Regions from separate parts of the Homo sapiens genome. Here region 1 is reported to be linked to region 2. Evidence: microRNA targets listed by miRTarBase, many of them from high-throughput screens and not tested one by one. Region 2 holds a microRNA gene; the other region holds the end of a gene's coding sequence.

Evidence for each region. Region 2 holds the annotated microRNA hsa-miR-29c-3p (UAGCACCAUUUGAAAUCGGUUA, at 1,575-1,596, opposite strand). A microRNA usually pairs through its seed, bases 2 to 8, with sites in the 3' UTR of a target mRNA and lowers its output. Matches are read on the target gene's strand: a 7mer-m8 pairs with bases 2 to 8, a 7mer-A1 pairs with bases 2 to 7 and ends in A, and an 8mer does both.
Region 1: the mRNA of LIMS1 is a reported target of hsa-miR-29c-3p. Seed matches in the 3' UTR shown: 7mer-m8 at 3,844-3,850.

Annotation. Positions count from the first base shown.
Region 1 is chr2:108,683,368-108,687,429 of GRCh38, forward strand. LIMS1 (LIM zinc finger domain containing 1) reads left to right here. Exons shown (of 10, transcript NM_001193483.3): 10 at 518-3,879. The coding sequence ends at 632. Among named protein-coding and RNA genes, the nearest start is that of LIMS1-AS1, 6.8 kb to the left of the region's middle.
Region 2 is chr1:207,800,291-207,804,360 of GRCh38, forward strand. It overlaps MIR29C (microRNA 29c), which reads right to left and starts at 1,649; the gene lies at 1,562-1,649. MIR29B2CHG (MIR29B2 and MIR29C host gene) reads right to left here. Exons shown (of 6, transcript NR_135299.1): 6 at 1,228-2,372. MIR29B2 (microRNA 29b-2) reads right to left here and starts at 2,233; the gene lies at 2,153-2,233.

The sequences.
Region 1 (4,062 bases), not on the chromosome of region 2:
TGTCTCTACAAAAAAAAATTTTTAAGTTAGCCAGGCATAGTAGTATGCACTTGTGTCCCAGCTATTCAGGAGGCTGAGGTGGGAGGATGGCTTGAGTCCAGGAGTTAGAGGCTGCAGGGAGCTGTGATCACCACTGCACTCCAGCCTGAGTGACAGTCGAGGCTCTGTTTCCAAAAAAAAAAAAAAAAAAAAGTGATTGACTGTACTTAAGTTAATTATATTTACATTAGATTTCCTGTTTACTTAGTACTGAATAAAATGTAATCTACAGTCTGTGTTACACAGATGGATGTATAGAACCAATTTATAAGGACTTTTTTTTAAAATTATACTGAATTTTTATATATATATCACAATAAGAATTGAGGTTAGGATTATGGTTTTTTTACTAACATGAATATAATATCATCACCTAGTTGCCTTCGTTTAGTTCAGTACAATTACTGCACATCATTTATATATCTTTGTTGAATATGTTTCCACTAACTTCTTTTTTTTTATAATTTTTTGTCTTTAGGAATAAGTTTGTGGAGTTTGACATGAAGCCAGTCTGTAAGAAGTGCTATGAGAAATTTCCATTGGAGCTGAAGAAAAGACTTAAGAAACTAGCTGAGACCTTAGGAAGGAAATAAGTTCCTTTATTTTTTCTTTTCTATGCAAGATAAGAGATTACCAACATTACTTGTCTTGATCTACCCATATTTAAAGCTATATCTCAAAGCAGTTGAGAGAAGAGGACCTATATGAATGGTTTTATGTCATTTTTTTAATTAAAAAAGAAAAATTCATATAATCGTGTTTAAAACACAAATGAAGTCAGTATTTGCCTTTGTTAACCCTTATCCATTTGTTGACATGTAGACTGTTTACAAAAAAAAAACACATGGTTAAATGTTAAATTTTAATTAAGGCCCCCAAAAATTAAATATAACTTTTTAAAATGAAAGGAGTCACCTTTTACATGACTCAGGTGAAAAAACAGTATAAACATTAATTTACTTTGTGTTCAAAAGAAAATTCCAACTGCTGTTGGGGAAGGACACAGAAAAGAAAAATAACCACCCAAGAAAAACAAAAACAAGAAAAACAAATCTTATACAATCTTAGTATATTTATCAAACTAGTAGCTAGAAAGTGAATATGCACATTACTAAGACAAAAAACAAGTGTAATTCAGAACTACTTGATTTTTTTTAGTTAAATGCAATAATTATTATGCTTAGTTTTATAACCTGCTCTCCTTGTGAATTCTTCCTTCAAATGATTACTTAACGCAGTAGTAATAGCTAGCTGTAGGATGTCCTTTAAATTTTTGTGCAAAAAAAAATTTATACCAGGTATTTGGAAATATACTTTACAATATTGGAAAATGAAGTATTTTTAATGTATTACAGCAATTATGTTTCTAAGCTTAATGTTAAGCATGTAGTCTTAGAATAGGACATGAAATTAAATTGTATGTAGCTTGGAATATATTGCTTCAGAAAACTGAATGTGTATGTCGGTCATATTGCCTTTATAACCATGCTAATATCTATGCTTTATACATACTCAAACTTGCCTTGCCTTAAAAACATACATACTACATACTTAAATCAGGAATTCTAGCCATCTCACAGAATACCAACTAAAACTAAGTGCATTGAGATCTGAGATTGGTAAACCCAGATTCATTTACCACAGCTGTAATTAAGTTTTTAGAAACTATTCTCTTTTTGGGGAAATCCATTGAAGTTAATTTCTGTTATCTTATTAGAAGAAAATGATGTTGATATGTGTTTCAGATTTTCCATTTGAAATCTTATAATTAATTTGATTTATTTACTGTAAGTAGGAGGTATAAATGACACTCTTAAATTGGAAGGAGGGGTGTTTTAGTGTCTGTTTTAGGTCAAAATTAGTGATTCTATTTTTATCAAAAGTTTTATCCTGAAGTTTCAGGACCACTCTTCCTTAATAAACTTGTTAATGGAAAGCGAGCTTTATGAACATTTAAAAATGTTGCTGCTGCTTTGTTGCTTAAAAAGAAAGTTGCCAAGAGAGACTTCTTAGGGAAAATATTTGGGTTTTTTTTCCAAAAATTGCTGAAATATTGTTTTGCCATTTTTAAAAAGTCTCAGGTTATTACCACTCTGCCATTAAATATTTGTATGCCTGCATTTTTAAAAATTCTGTGCATGTACTTTATGGAGTACATTCTATTTTTGTTTTCAGATACCCTACAACCAATTTTTTTTAGTAATCTTTTAGAATTGAAATTATCATAAATGATCGAGAATAATCATCACATAGTTTAAGATTGTATATGTTGAGTAGTTTAAAACAATCTTTGCATTTTACAGTAAGAATCAAAGTCCCTTCAGTGTGCCTTTGTCAGCTAATATGTGACCAGCAATGACAACCTTGGGAGTATTTATTAAATATTATGCTATGAATATAGGCAACACAGAACAGGGTTTGCAGTATAGCGTCTTGATGCTAAATTCTCATATACCTCTACACGAGAAATATGGAGGAGAAAAACAAGCATTTACATATATTCTTCGTCACTTTGAAGATGCATGGCCTGAACTCGACTGCTTGTGTTTGTTTACATATCAGGCATACCCAGGCATCTCCTGCAGCCAGAGGTTCCATTGCTGTCTTTGCTCAGTCCTCTTTTAAAATATGAATTAGTGGACAGGCACGGTGCCTCACACCTGTAATCCCAGCACTTTGGGAGGTCGAGGCAGGTGGATCACGAGGTCAGGAGATCAAGACCATCCTGGCTACCACTGAAACCCCATCTCTACTACAAAAAAATTAGCCGGGCGTGGTGGCGGGCACCTGCAGTCCCAGCTACTCGGGAGGCTGAGGCAGGAGAATGGTGGGAACCCGGGAGGCAGAGCTTGCAGTGAGCCAAGATCACGCCACTGCACTCCAGCCTGGGCAACAGAGCAAGACTCTGTCTCAAAAAAAATAAATAAATAAATTATGAATGAGTATTTTCTAGAAATTCAACTTGCTAAGCCTGTAATACTTAAGGGTAGTTTATCTAGATACAGTACTTTCTTCCCTGATAAGTAGTATCATTGGAGCCCTTAGGTATAGGAGAAGAGGAAGAAGTTTAAAAAGTGTAAGTGGGCCGGGCGTGGTGGCTCATGCCTGTAATCCCAGCACTTTGGGAGGCCGAGGGGGGCGGATCACGAGGTCAGGAGATCCAGACTATCCTGGCTAACAAGGTGAAACCCCGTCTCTACTAAAAATACAAAAAAAAACATTAGCCAGGCGTGGTGGCGGGCGCTTGTAGTCCCAGCTACTCGGGAGGCTGAGGTAGGAGAATGGCTTGAACCCAGGAGGCGGAGCTTGCAGTGAGCCGAGATTGCACCACTGCACTCCAGCCTGGGCGACAGAGCAAGACTCCGTCTCAAAAAAAAAAAAAAAGTGTAAGTGGATTAAAAGAGAAACTTGGTCTAGTTCATAATATTTTTAATAGGGCTTTCCCTGGCTGCTGGAAAACTTAGGCCAGTAAGCATCTCTTTGTTTAAAGTCCTACAAGACAATTTGAAATAATTCATTGTTCATGCCAAAATTCTAAGTACTGTTTTTCTTAGCAAGTGTAACATAATCAGGAACAATGGGTACAAGTAAAACATTCTTTGGATGATATTCAAAGCCTTATTAGCACTGCACCTGAATAATAGGTCATTTTGCCTCACTCATTTGCCAAAGTAGCCATTTCTAAGTTAAGGAAGTTTTTAGATAGGCTCATAGCCTTGTATTTCGTTTTAGATTGTAAGCTCAATGGCAGGGATACTATATTGGTAATTATGTTTTCATATAGCAACCACCACAGTATATTCTTGGTGCTTAATAAATGTTTATAATTGTTAACAATAACCTGTTGTATATTGTTTATTTTGAATGGTATATATGTGAAATACATATGAAAATTGAAGTATTCATGAATATATAATAGAAACAAGTAAATGAATAAAATGACCTGGTTACTATAGATAAGCCAAATTTTGAACCATCTAGAACAATGGTGTAGTCTTCCCTCTACTCAATGTAAATGCTGGG
Region 2 (4,070 bases):
CAAAACAATATAACTTAGGGTCTTAACTAACACCACCACTTAGGGTCTTCCCACCACATCCTGGGGATTAGAACATGGGTTCTTCCATCAACAGCCTGAAATAGCACTGCAGCTGCAGTGAGGGGGTGCAACATATGTACTGGCAAGTCTTCCCAGCAAATGCTACTTCCGCCCCCCACTCTCAGCCCACTGGGCAGGGCAGCCATCTAGAGGAAGACTGTGGCAGGGGGTTGGGCTTAGAAATGGCTTCCTAGGTGGCTGATTTGCCATCATTTATTGCAAGCCACTGGCTTAAAAGAGTTCTACTGAGGGTAGTTCATAGTCATGCACCTCCTGTGCAAAAAGCCTGATCAAGGGGCCACAGCCCGCCTTCCTGAAGATCCTACAAGCTTGATCCCCTATCAAATCAAATCTGGCTAATCTCTGAATAGCTTTACAAAACTGGCTCACTGGGCCAGGCGAGGTGGTTCACGCCTGTAATCCCAGCACTTTGGGAGGCTGAGGTGGGTGGATCACGGGGTCAGCAGTTCGAGACAAGCCTGGCCAACATGATGAAACCCCGTCTCTACTACAAAATACAGAAATTAGCTGGGCGTGGAGGTGCCACGCCTGTAATCCCAGCTACTCGGAAGGCTGAGGCAGAATTGCTTGAACCCGGGAGGCGGAGGTTGCAGTGAGCGGGGACAGTGCCATTGCACTCCAGCCTGGGTGACAGGGTGAGACTCCGTCTAAAACAAACAAACAAACAAAAAAAAAAAACAAAAAAAAACTGGCTCATCTTGTTTTGAAGTGTTGACATAAACTAATAGTCAAAAGCACCACTCAATCTTTTATAATGCAAGTGAAATCAGTGCTGTGCCCCTTCAAGGAACCATGTGACAGTATGTTTAGTTGAGCACCAGTTCCTTGCAGGAACAGTTGCTGGCAGAAGGGCTGTGTCTACAGCCCATGTGGAACTAAGGAGTTTTCCCATTCAGTAGGGAGCATCCCTCAGCCTTGATCTTCAACATTTCTTCTCTTCCCTAATCTTTTCTCTCATTTTATTTCTTGGCTCATAGAATTTCATTCTTCTCTTAATGGGCTTCATTTTTAATGTCTGGCTGGCTGTAACCTACTTCAAATTCTTTATGAAGTAGGCAAGATCTGCACAGCCAATTAATTTTTCAGGACCCACTTCTTATCATCACAGAATTATGAATGGGAAATAATAGATGAAAAACACAGACATGATAAACTGAACATAGTATTTATTAAGGTCAGGATGCATGAATAGACTCTTCTCAACAGAAAGATAATTCAACAGCAATCAATTTACAGAATTTAGAACAGCACTACATTTCAGCAAAATGCAACTAGAGAACATCAGATAAATTATAGTAATTTGTTTTTAAAAATCCATTAAACTATCTCTTACCTCTGCAATAATGTATCATACATGCAGTTACAGAAGTTAGTAGGGAAAAGCATGATCTTCCTTCCCTATTCTCTGCCCATCCATCTTCCAGGAAACCACAGGCTGCTGCTGCCCAGAGTTGGCATGAGGCTTCGAGGCTGCTGCTTTTCCCCCTACATCATAACCGATTTCAAATGGTGCTAGACAAAAACAGACTCTGAACACCAGGAGAAATCGGTCAGCCTGTGTAAGAGATGGGCCAGTGGTGCTCCCAGGGTCTGCACCTCGACAGTCCAGGTGGCAAGTCTGATTTCGGGTGCCCCGCAATCAACGCCGAATACTCCAGGGCATCCTCTAAGAGCAGACTGATGGTGTCGATGTGGACAAAATGGTCCTCCAGGTGTACTGCCCTCTCCCCTGCCCCATGACAATCGACACCCAATACATTGTTATCCAACAGAATATGACAATCGCCACACTCAAAGGCCCTACGAACACATTCATGCTGGTGATGGCTGCTAGGAGTCAACAGAAATAGCATCACAACCTCTGCCCCTGCTCAAGCCACTGTGTTTATTTTAAACACAACCCCCTTCTCTACTGTCACCTCTCCCAAAACCCAACAAACTCAAGAGTGTATTTTGCTCTTCAAGTTCTTCCCTGGACTTCTCGAACAGACTCAAGTGGCAAGAGGAGAGGAGCCAGTTCCATGAGCAGCAGTTCCTCTGCAGTCCACCCTTGGCTGTGCTGCAATTCTTACTCCTAAAACACTGATTTCAAATGGTGCTAGATACAAAGATGGAAAAATCTAAGCCACCATGTGAAACCAGCTTCCAGAAGAAGAGGATCTCAATGAAGAAAGAAGGGAGATTCAATCGGAAGACCCAGCCTCTGCCCTGAGGAGAAATATCTTCTTGTAGTTCTACTTGTGATATGACACAGTGCTCCATGGGAAAGGCACAGAGGAGGTTACACAGGGCTGCACAAGGCAACATGAAAGGCACAGCTGATGCTTCAAATAGATGAGAGCAATACAAAACTCATTAATTCTAGGTTAATTCTATTTAACTTCACACCAGTCACTACAAATTATTATATATGATGAAATAAAAGCTAAAATTATTACTAAAATACATTAATATTTACATTTGTACTGCCCTGCATTTGTATAGTATTTCACAGTACACAAAGTGTTTCCAGATATATTCTCTTACTTCATCAGGACACAAGCACCCTATCTGCCTGTGGAATGAAGCTCCAGCTGCTACACAAAGGCGAGTCTCACCTGGGCCAGGACAACTCTTTTATGTGTCTTAACTTGAGAAAAGCATGCATTCCTCCTTCCCACCCCATATGTAAGTATCAGAACATTCAAATATGACCCCATGAACCTGCAATCTTATTTAACCCCGATGTGACTTCAAAAACTGGTACCCTATAATTGTATTAAGCAGATAATCCTCTAACGTAAGAATTGAGTTTTATTTTCAAAGTCTGCTTGAAAATAAGATTTGCACACTGTATTCCAAATTAGATTTCCCATCTCCTTACTGCATCATCTTTTTTGGTGGTTTGAAGCTAAGAAAATATGTGTATTTCCTCTGATACCATAACCAAGAGAAAAGAGACAGAGTAGACACTGTATATTTTAGCTTCCTTTCAGGCCTCTAGATACAGCCTTATAATTTTTATGGTTCCTGGCACTAACAGTATGTGTTGCTAGAAGGAGAAGAAATAGAATTTGAACATCAAAAGTTGCGGTGTTTAATTCTCACAACAGTCGTATGGGGCAGGTATTATTCCAATTTTTGCGAAGAAATTCATCCTTAATGAGGCTAAATAACTTGTCTGCAGTCACACAACCAATCAATGCAGATCCCAGGTCTAACTCCAAAGACTGTGTTTCTGCCCTTGTATCCACTGCAGCCTGCTCCATAACTTGACTATCATCTCATTTTGTTCTTGAACTTCATTAAGAACAAAACAGGGTGGGTGGGGCAGGAAATTCCTAGGCGATACTTCTGCACTGAATGGGATCATACTGACTACATAACACGTTATACTTAGGGGGAGACAGGAGCATCATCTGGGTTCTGCGAAAGCCGGGTGGTCTGGGGCAGCTTGCTTTGTTCTCCTGCTCCTCTAGCGCCTTTGCCGTCTTTCCCCAGCATGTGGCTGTGGGAAAGACACTGAAGATGAACCTGCAACAAGCGATTCTGACACCAGCGCTAGGCTCTACAGCCCACGGGGGACTTGCTAGCCTCAGTCACAGGTGGGAGAGCTGGGGCAGATCTGCACACAAGGGCTCTCAGTGATGACACCTGTAGCCAACACCTGGGGCTTGTTAACCAGGTAACAGCCAGGGTTGTAAGGTCAGGAGTGAGTGTTTAAGGACAGTTACTACTGGGAGTCCAAATCCTGTCAAATGAGGGGATTTGATGAGATTCTCACTTTTCTGCTTTTCATTTTAGCCACTCTTCCTTATCAACTTTTAGTTACCAGTACCCCCTCCCTATGAGCTATCACACAGGTGTCCCGCAGTGATCAGAAAGCACCTTCCTCCATGGCGAGGTCCTGCCTGCCTAAGCTGTTGTCTCTTCTGGAATACTCTCCTTCACCCTCCCTTGGCTACCACCCCTCAGCCCCGCCCCCACCCACCACCACTCCAGGGAACCTG